Regions from separate parts of the Homo sapiens genome. Here region 1 is linked to region 2. Evidence: fine-mapped expression QTL. A gene starts in region 2. The other region holds a variant in brackets. All regions are shown on one strand. Distances are between the middles of the regions. Region 1 holds the start of APMAP (adipocyte plasma membrane associated protein). Region 2 holds the start of CST7 (cystatin F).

Region 1 (5,373 bases), 44 kb after region 2:
AACACTCCAGCTGCCTTACTCCTCATGAATTCGTGAATGCCCAATCTGTTTCTCCATACTTCCTCCCTTACTCTTCAGTCTCCAAGAGGAAAAAGGAAAATGGACCTAGCAGACTTTTAATTAAACTAAAATCCTTCAGAAGTTTATTGAAAAAGGAGAATTATACAGAATTTAATGTATTGAAACATATTAAATCCTCAATGTATTTATTCTGCATCCCTAAACAGTCACATATGGACATTAAACAGTTCTCTTCCTAGATAGAACTGTGTTTCAAACAGAAAGGAATAGTTCCACAGAGTACAATTAAGTTTCTAAAGCATTTCGGGAAATCAATGTCAAATAATAATTATAAGCTTGCACCGGTATGTTAAAGTACTTAGCTCATCTATGTTCCACACTGAATAAAAGAATTTACCAACCAAATTCTCCATTATATTTCAAATACAGTAATTCAAGAGCTTTGGCATAAAGTCTTATTTCCAAAGCATAATTTTAAAAATACACTTCTCAGTCATTGTCCAGCTGCCAGTTCTATCCTTCTTCATTCATTTTCATTTCTCTTTTGACTCTATTCTCTGTAACTTCATATAAACCACCTCACACACATAGACCTCAATGATCTCATCAGCAAAACAAAGCAAACACCCACCTTTTGTGCCAAGAGTTGGGAGACCACCCAACGTATTACTAGGGGTCCCTACCACTGCTAAAATCTATGTCTTAGTTCTGTCAGTTTAGTAATATGTCTTTCAAGGCTTCCTTTATTCTATTTAGCACATCTAAAGTGCTAAAGTTTATTCTAATAGTTTCGTGTTTTTACTTCTGAATTTAGATTCCTTTACTTCGCCCACTATACACAGGCTTTCCTGGCTTATGTTGAACCCTCGACTTTTAAGGTAATCAAGAATACTATTACATGAACTACTAGAAATGACCACAAAATAAATGAAAAATATAGGAGAAATGCAGAAGAAAAATAAGAAAAACAGCTACCATGTTACAATAATAATTGCGGAAAGGAAGGGTGGTGACAAGACCTCACTTTGAAAGAGATCATTACAGATATACAGAAAAGGGATAAACAAACAAGAAGGACAAACACAGGGAAACAGGAACAATGTTCATGGACAGGGAAGTCAAGGAAATAAGTAAACATAAATGTAAAAGGCACACTGGAAAAGATCAGGCAGTAAAAGATGACTTTAGAATCAGATTTACTTACTCATTAAGGAAGAAATCCCCACAGAGAACCTGAAAAAAACAATTAAGTCTGCCTGCTTGCCCTGGGGCCAGAAGTGTGAGCCAGCCAACTTGAGAGTTGGGACTACCTAACCGGTGCCCTCAGGGGCTGTAGGCCCTGGTTTTCAACACACTGCACCTAATGACAAACTCAGGCCACTGCTCTTCCATTTCTCAGGTAAAAATGCCTTGTTTTCAAGATTTCTGTAGGAAAGTGTTGCCAATTCTTGCATGTCCATTCTAAATGGCTCCTCAATCATCAACAGATGATTAATTCACAATATTCACAGTAAGTAGGGTGATCAGATTGTCCCAGTTTGCCCAGGTTTAGCACTGAAAGTTCTACATCCTTGGAAACCCCAGTCCAGGGCAACGCAGGATGGTTGGTCAGGATATATGGGAGCATCTTCCCGATCTTTTCACTGGCCCAAGGAGTCAACTATCACCGCAAAGTCTTCTCTCTAAATTGCCTCTCTAGAGCCTAAATGCTCCTTCCTGCCATCGCTCTCCTTCAAATGTGTTCCTCTTATCATCAGTCAATAAACTCAGTCTACAGGGGCAAAAACTGCCTCTCATTCATATGTACCCCACCACCTCTTGGCACACTACTGATGAACAAATATTTCCAGTATTTCTATCAAATATAAGTCAATCAGTCCCACAACTTCAAGCTTGGTCTATGGGGCCTCTTGATTCTCCCTGAAACTTAAAAGTTATGAAATTCAGGACACAGAATTGAAAAGTGAATTTTAAGTATCTTATATTGAAATCTATGCTTACGAATCATGATTCAGTTTTTAGCTAACAAAACACAGCATTCTTATATTCTGAAAGATGGGAGAGGAGGCAAAGGGCAAAACCTGATATTTCTTAGGTGTCAACAACTACAGTTTCCTATGTTTCTCCATCCCTATCAGGAAAAACTGCCAGGCTGAATTCTCACAAAAATTGCCTACAATGTCACTACTGTTCTCCACTCTTTCCAAGAACCGCGGTGAGGACTGGTCACGCAGCGTGAGGGGGGCAGGTGCAGAAGAGCAAGTGTAGAAGCCATCTCTTCGCCGGATAACGAGGCAGGACCCCAGCATCTCGTGGGACCTCCTCCCTTCGGGAAATTGCGAGCGGGGAACCAGGAACACGCAGGGCCCCGGCCAAGTAGCTGTGCTCAGGGGGATCATTTAAGCCAAAGGAAGGACAGCGCGAGGGGAGCGAGGGAAAGGCGAGGAAGCAACCGCTATGCAGGGTGGGGCAGGAGTGAGGGAGGGAAGGCAAAGGAGCGGCGCGAGGCGGTCTCGGGTCCGGAGAGCCGAGGACAACGCGGCGACTGGGCGCAGGGTGCACCCGAACCTGAAAGACCTGGCAGGTACATCCGCCTTGTCGGAGCCTGCTTCCTCGGAAAAATGAGTTTTTCTTGGGGATGAAACGAGAGGACTCTGACAACGCGCTCGGCACCGCATCCCCAGGTTACTGTTACTGCCGTCGCCGCTGTCCAAGAGGGTCGCCCTCCACTCCTAGCGGCCCGGCTCCAGCGCCCAGTCTGGGAGTCCGCCCTACCTGCCGTCCTTAGCCTCCGGGGCCTGGCCATCATCGTCTGTGACGACCTGCGGCCGCAGGGGCCGGCGCTGTCGCAGCCCGTCCGCCTCGCTCATGGTACGGGCGCCAGCCTCACCCGCAGAAACCACCTCACACTGAGCGGCGCCGGCTCAGACTCCAGGCCCGCCCTCCCCCGTACGCGGAAATGACGTTGCGCCCAGGGACCATTCCGCAGCGTTCTCCCCGCCCCTTCCGGCCTCATGGGCGGGAGGTCCCCGGCGCGTCGTTGCTCGGCGCTCTGAGGCTAATTCTGACCGCCCGGAAGTGGGGCTCGGAACCCGCTCAGAGATAGCACCGGGAGC[T/C]GCCGGGGTCCCCGCCTGTCTCGGACTCCGGGGCCCAGAACGCGAGTGGTTCAACCTCGGGCTCGTCTAGCCCAGTGCCTGCGCATGCCGCCTTCGTCTCACGTTTCTGAGGACGGGGATGCTCATGACGCACTTGGGAATTGCTAGCACGAGATGTTGGCCACTTTTATCGTTGGAGAGGATAGCGCTGTTTATTCAGTGTCAGCGACCCTGCTCTTACAGGCAGCGTCAAAAATAATGCATTCACACCCTTGGAACGAAGTCACCTCTGCCTGAAAATTACATCCTTCCCCGACTCAGCCGGTTAAGGGGAAAACTTGGGCTAGAAAATGTTTCCCTCTGGTTAAGGCCAGATGTTGAGTATTAAATCTTTTTGTGACGATTACAACAGACATTTGATAAAGTTTATTAAGTTTTGATAAAGTTTATTAAGTTTTGATAAAGTTTATTAAGGATTACCCTTAAGTAAAGTCCAGGTAGAAGTAGAAATTATCACTAACAAAGTTTAAGAAAGCATAGAGAGGCATTGTTCTTTCAACAGTATTGCAGGAAACCAGAAATGTTCCCAGGTGCTGGGAGACGATGGTGGGCAAATCACAGACAAGGCCCCTCCTTATAGAAATTAAACTAGTGGGAAAGATGACTTTAATCAGATCATCATCATAAAATAGACGTAAAATTATCAAACGTAATAATTGCTTCAAAAGGGAAGAGCTGAATCTTGTGAGAGCATTTGAGATTCAAAGAGGAATCGAATCTGGAGGAAGTGACAGGCAGAAGAAATCAAAGCCCGTTACCAGTGGCACGAGGAATTATCTCTGGAAAAGCCATGTTCAAAATGCAGTGTTAAGAAATAATTTCCTCTTGGAGGCTTTTACCTTTTTAAATGCTAGATGGCACTAGAATTCCATGTGAATGCTTTTTATTTATTCATTCAAAGAGCGGAAGAACCAGCTTGAGGGAAGTGGAGAGCTGTGCAAATCCAGTTCTCCAGAGATCCCAGGTAATAATTCAGGCCTCGACAACATTTTACTTCATTCTGTGTCATTGAGAATAGCCAATACAGCTATTAAATCAGGGATAGTGTTAACAAAGTACTGTATGATCTCACGCCTTCCTGCCTGTCTGGACTATCCCTCTTGCTCCCCACCCCCCATTTCAGACATTCAGGATGGCTTAACATGTCTAATCTCATGCCTGGCTGCCTTTGTCCTTGAGGTTCCTTCTTCCTGTGATACACTCTCCTTCACCTCCACTTGGCCAATTATTTTTATCATTCAGGACCCACTTCAAGTATCCTTGCTGAAAATTCTTCTCCCAGTTTCCCAAGCAGAACATCTTCCTCTTTGTCTTCAAGGCACTTTAAACATGTCCCAGCCATAACATTGAACTCACTGCATTGGAGCTATTTGTGTTCCATGCCCAGTGTTAAAGCCCACGCACTGCAAACACCCAGGGACACATTCAGAAGAAAAATAATGGCAGTAAGTTGGGTTTACTGAACTTGCTGCAGCAAAGAAATGCACCAGAGGACCGGTGAGGTTCCTCAAAATGGGGGAGTCATGGGAGACTCCTTGTGGGGTTTGGGGGCTGGAGTTAGTCCATCGATAGTCTTGCCCAGGGTTGGTCAGAATCCGTTAACAACGGGAGTCACTGGAGGAACCGTGGCCTTAGCTCTGGGACATGTAAGTCCATTCGGAGTTATCAGGAGGTCAGCTCGTGGGCTTATCATGAAGCACGTAGGTAGTTGGTGTTACAGTGGTCTGAGCTAGATCATTTGTGCTGCATAGCACGGGTTCAGTACAGTTTTTCTGTTTTCAAGTCACGGTGAAGCACGCTTTGCTTGTTGTATTTGTTTCAGTTATCAGTTCTCCCACCCCACCTTCCAACCAGACCGACTTTGTTTCTCATCGTGCTGATGCCAGTTGTTGGCAGAGGAATGGGACCACTATGATTAATTTGATCAGGTTTCTCAGCACCACTGATATTTTGGGCCAGATAATTCTGTTAGGAGGCGGAGGGGGGCCTCTCCTGTGCGCTGGTGTTTCAGCAGCATCCCTGGGCTTCCCCCACTAGATGGCAGTAGCATCCCACCTAGTCGTGATGATAAAAAATGTTGCCAGACATTGACAGATAGCCCCTGGAGGACAAAACAGCCCTTGGTTGAGAAGCGCTGAGTGAGACCAACCAAAACCCACACCCAACCCTGGCACTGGGGATGAGGCTCACTTCCATC
Region 2 (5,373 bases):
TATCACCAGTGATCCCATAGAAATACAAACTACCATCAGAGAATACTGTAAATGCCTCTAAACTAATAAACTAGAAAATCTAGAAGAAATGGGTAAATTCCTGGACACACACACCCTCCCAAGTCTAAACCAGGAAGAAGTCGAATCCCTGAATCGATCAATAACAAGTTCTGAAATTGAGGCAGTAATTAATAGCCTACCAACCAAAAAAAAGTCCAGGACCAGATGGATTCACAGCTGAATTCTACCAGAGGTACAAAGAGGCGCTGCTACCATTCCTTCTGAAACTATTCCAAACAAGAGAAAAAGAGGGAATCCTCCCTAACTCATTTTATGAGGCCAGCATCATCCTAATACCAAAACCTGGCAGAAACACAACAAAAAGAAAATTTCAGGCCAATATCCCTGATGTCCCATCAATGTGAAAATCCTCAATAAAATATGGCAAACTGAATCCAGCAGCACATCAAAACTTATCCACCATGATCAAGTCAGCTTCATACCTGGAATGCAAGGCTGGTTCAACATATGCAAATCAATAAACGTAATCCAGCATATAAACAGAACCAATGAGAAAAACCACATGATTATCTTAATAGATGCAGAAAAGGCCTTCAACAAAATTCAACACCCCTTCATGCTAAAAACTCTGAATAAAGTAGGTTTTGATGAACTGTATCTTAAAATAATAAGAGCTATTTATGACAAACCCACAGCCAATATCATACTGAATGGACAAAAACTTGAAGCATTCCCTTTGAAAACTGGCACAAGACTAGGATGCCCTCTCTCACCACTCCTATTCAACATAGTGTTGGAAGTTCTGGCCAGGGCAATTAGGCAGGAGAAGGAAATAAAGAGTATTCAAATAGGAAAAGAGGGAGTCAAATTGTCTCTGTTTGCAGATGACATGACTGTATATTTAGAAAACCCCATCATCTCAGCCCAAAATCTCCACAAGCTGATAAGCAACTTCAGCAAAGTCTCAGGATACAAAATCAATGTGCAAAAATCACAAACATTCCTATACACCAATAATAGACAAACAGAGAGTGAAATTATAAGTGAACTCCCATTCACAATTGCTACAAAGAGAATAAAATACCTAGGAATACAACTTACAAGGGATGTGAAGGACCTCTTCAAGGAGAACTACAAACCACTGTTCAAGGAAATAAGAGAGGATACAAATAAATGGAAAAACATTCCATGCTCATGGATAGGAAGAATCAATGTTGTGAAAATGGCCATACTGCCCAAAGTAATTTATAGATTCAGTGATATCCCCCATCAAGCTATCATTGACTTTCTTCACAGAATTGGAAAAAACTACTTTAAAGTTCATAGGGAACCAAAAAAGAGCCTGCATAGCCAAGACAATCCTAAGCAAAAAGAACAAAGCTGGAGGCATCATGCTATCTGACTTCAAACCATACTACAAGCCTACAGTAACCAAAACAGCATGGTACTGGTACCAAAACAGATATATAGACCAATGGAACAGAACAGAAGCCCAGAAATAACACCACACATCAACAACCACCTGATCTTTGACAAACCTGACTAAAACAACCAATGGGGAAAGGATTCCCTATTTAATAAATGGTGTTGGGAAAACTGGCTAGCCATTTGCAGAAAACTGAAACTGGACCCCTTCCTTACACCTTATACAAAAATTAACTCAACATGGATTAAGGACTTAAGACCTAAAACCATAAAAACCCTAGAAGAAAACCTAGGCAGTACCATTCAGGACATAGGCATGGGCAAAGACTTCATGACTAAAACACCAAAAGGAATAGCAACAAAAGCCAAAATTGATAAATGGGACCTAATTAAACTAATGAACTTCCACACAGCAAAAGAAACTGTCATCAGAGTGAACAGGCAACCTACAGAATGGGAGAAAATTTTTGCAATATATCCATTTGACAAAGAGCTAATGTCGAGAATCTACAAGGAACTTAAACAATTGACAAGAAAAAAACAACCCCATCAAAAATTGGGTGAAGGATATGAACAGACACTAAAAAGAAGACATTTATGCAGCCAAGAAACATATGAAAAAACGCTCATCATCACTGGTCATTAGAGAAATGCAAATCAAAACCACAATGAGGTACCATCTCATGCCAGTTAGAATGGTGATCGTTAAAAAGTCAGGAAGCAACAGATGCTGGAGAGGATGTGGAGAAATAGGAACGCTTTTACACTGTTGGTGGGAGTGTAAATTAGTTCAACCATTGTGGAAGACAGTGTGGTGATTCCTCAAGGATCTAGAACCAGAAATACCATTTGACCCAGCAATTTCATTACTGGGTATATACTCAAAAATCATTCTACTATAAAGACACATGCACACGTATGTTTACTGCAGCACTAGTCACAATAGCAAAGACTTGGAACCAACCCAAATGCCCATCAATGGTAGACTGGATAAAGAAAATGTGGCACATATACACCATGGAATACTATGCAGCCATAAAAAAGATGAGTTCATGTCCTTTGCAGGGACATGGATGAAGCTGGAAACCATCATTCTCAGCAAACTAACACAAGAACAGAAAACCAAACACCGCATGTTCTCATTCATAGGTGGGAGTTGAACAATGAGAACACATGGACACAGGGAGGGGAACATCACACACCAAGGACTATCTGGGGATCCGGGGCCAGGGGAGGGATAGCATTTGGAGAAATACCTAATGTAGATGATGGGTTGATGGGTGCAGCAAACCACCATGGCACGTGTATACCTATGTAACAAACCTGCATGTTCTGCACATGTACCCCAGAACTTAAGTAATTAAAAGAAAAAGGAAAATCAAGTGATTTTGCTTTTGAAAATTCCTGCTAATGTTTTTCATGCAACATCTCTTTCGTGTGTGGCTCAGGGGTAGAACATTGCATCAGGATTTGCTCATGGGTCTCATGTCTCTTCCTCCTCCCCCAGCAAATGACGGCTGCTCGGAAACTTTTATAAAGGAAGCGGTTGCTTTGTGGCTGATAGATCTGAAGGTGAAGAGCTTCTGGCCAAAATGATTCAGCAGCAAAACACTCCCCTCCCCAGCACCACGCAGGCAGCCCCCTAGCCCCGCCCCTGCCCCATCCCACAGTGGTTTGCAGGGTGGGGTTCCATGCTGTGGCCCTGGCACCTGCCCCTGGGCTGGGACAGCCCACTGTTCCATGCTGCCCAAGAAGGCTCAGCACAGGCACAAACCATTGCCCGGCACTGGCCCGTGCTGCCTGAGAAGGATTGGCACGGGCACAGACCACTGCCCCCACCTGCCCTGCGCCATCTACCCAAGAAGGCTCGGCACGGGCACCAACCACTGCCTCCAACTGCCCCATGCTGCCTGAGAAGGCACTGCACGGCCACCCCCAACTGCCCCGCACTGTCCCTACCCGGGCAGCCATGCGAGCGGCTGGAACTCTGCTGGCCTTCTGCTGCCTGGTCTTGAGCACCACTGGGGGCCCTTCCCCAGGTAAGTGGCGTTCTCCCCTGTCCGCTCCCCGGGGGTCTCTCCCTGAGATTGGCCACTGGTGCCTTGGGTCTTCCCCAGGGCACTTTCCTAGCTTGGAGCCCCCACAGGACCATGCGGTGGTGAGAGGTGCTGGGAGTGGTGAGAGGGGCAAGGGGCTCCATCTGGCTGCAGCTACCTTTGGGGGTAGCAGGCTACAGGGATGAAGGGTTTGGGGGCTGCCCCAGAAGGCTAGGGGCAAGGGAAGCATCTTCTATTCTCTGGCTCTTCACAGAGGTCTGAGAAAGGTCTAAGTAAGGCAGGTCTCCCGCAGCTCCTCTGCGGGACGGAGGCGACAGGGCAGCCACATGCCTGTGGTTAGCCGCTTCTATCTGATGGCTTGTCATTCCTTCCTGCTGGCTGTTGTCCTGTGACTTGGCTCCAGGGACCCTAACGATCAGACTCTTTCACCCTTCCTGAAATCCACTCCCTGAGGGTCAGCACTCAGGGGGAGGGGGGACAGGGAGGAAAGAGCCACTGCCTGTGCACTGGGAAACTGAGACACAGCCAGGCTAGGTGATTTGCCCAAGTCACACAGCCAGGGACAACCTGCTCTCCCCCAAAGGGAACTGGGCCATGGCCTCCCTGGCACAGGAATCAGACCAGGATACTGATGGGGACTTGGGAGGCCCCCACCTCATTTAACCAACCAGGAAGCTGGCACCAGAGGGCTGAGGTGACCCGCTCAAGTCATATGACCCCCACCCAGCAGACAGGGACAGAAGGGGGCTGGAGCCTGGCCAAAGGGGCCCAGGTGGGGGCTGTGCAGCAGGACCACTGACAAGAGGATGGCTCCAGAGCACCCAAGGGGTTCTTGGAGGGTTCTCACCTCCTCCTGGTGAGTCAGGATACTGAGGACTCAGTGATGCTGGGGGACACTGTGTCGAGCTCCCAGGCCTGGCCTAGGGCGGACGCTGCGACTGAGCAGCCAAGGGGACACGGCAGGCTGGAGGAGGGGCCGGGGGCAGCTTCTGCTCTCACTGATGGGAACATGCCACCGCCACCAGCTCTGGGTAGTGCTCAGCGAACATGGAGCTGACCCATGGCTGGCAGAAGGCTGGGGACAGCATACCCGGCCCTGCCTCCCAGCTTGGGAGCCTTCTTAGCTCACGCAAGGAGCCCTCCACCTGCTTCCCAGCCTCACAGGGGCCTCTCCTCCTGGCCCTGTCCTGATGCAGTGCTGCCTGCCTGCTGCCATTCTGTGCCCTGCCCCTTCGTGTCTCCAAGGTCCAAGGGGGAAGCAGGGAAGAGAGGCAAGTTCACTCCAGAGAAGTGGCTCGTTCTCACACCTCAGAAAAGGCTCTCCTGGAGGGGACATGGAGCCAGCTGTCCTAGCGTGTCCTGGGATCTAATTAAACCTACTGACTGCTGAGGGGTTTCAGAGCTCTGCTCATCTCACGGAGCAGGCTAGGGACTATAACAGGGTGGCGTGGGAGCCGATGTGCTGGGCAGCTGGCAACGTCATTTTCCTGGGTGGTGTTCCCGGCCCCTCGCTGGTATGTAATGCTGCACCAAGCCTTTCCCTCCATTCTCAGCAGACCTGCTGTCAGCCACCAAACCCCAGAGAGAAGCTCCAGAGCCCACGTTCACACACACAGAGCGGGCCCTCAGCCTCAGTCCTACCATCCATGAAATGGGAAGATAACTGCACCCCGTCTCCGGCCCTGGGGAGGCTGAACAGAGGTGGCTCGGGGAAGGCACAGGCATGGAGGCACATGGGGCATGGGGTGCTCTCCGCCAGCCTCAGCCCCCTGCTCTGTCTAGTGCAGGCCCTTCTGCCACTGTGCTGGTGACAGCCCCCAGCACCCTGCCCAGGCGCTGTGATCATTTCTGGTGCTTCCAGCAAGGGCCT

The links. PIP is the estimated chance that this variant, and not a neighbour inherited with it, causes the effect.
Region 1: its variant is fine-mapped to the expression of CST7 in whole blood (INTERVAL, PIP above 0.99).

Annotation. Positions count from the first base shown.
Region 1 is chr20:24,989,798-24,995,170 of GRCh38, forward strand. APMAP (adipocyte plasma membrane associated protein) reads right to left here and starts at 2,954. Exons shown (of 9, transcript NM_020531.3): 1 at 2,797-2,954. The coding sequence starts at 2,891. RefSeq lists enhancers at 2,507-3,007, 2,566-2,625, 2,646-2,725, 2,856-3,095, 3,008-3,508 and 1 more. The variant T/C (reference allele first, on the strand shown) is at 3,138.
Region 2 is chr20:24,946,091-24,951,463 of GRCh38, forward strand. It overlaps CST7 (cystatin F), which reads left to right and starts at 3,179. Exons shown (of 4, transcript NM_003650.4): 1 at 3,179-3,485. The coding sequence starts at 3,416. RefSeq lists an enhancer at 2,845-2,894.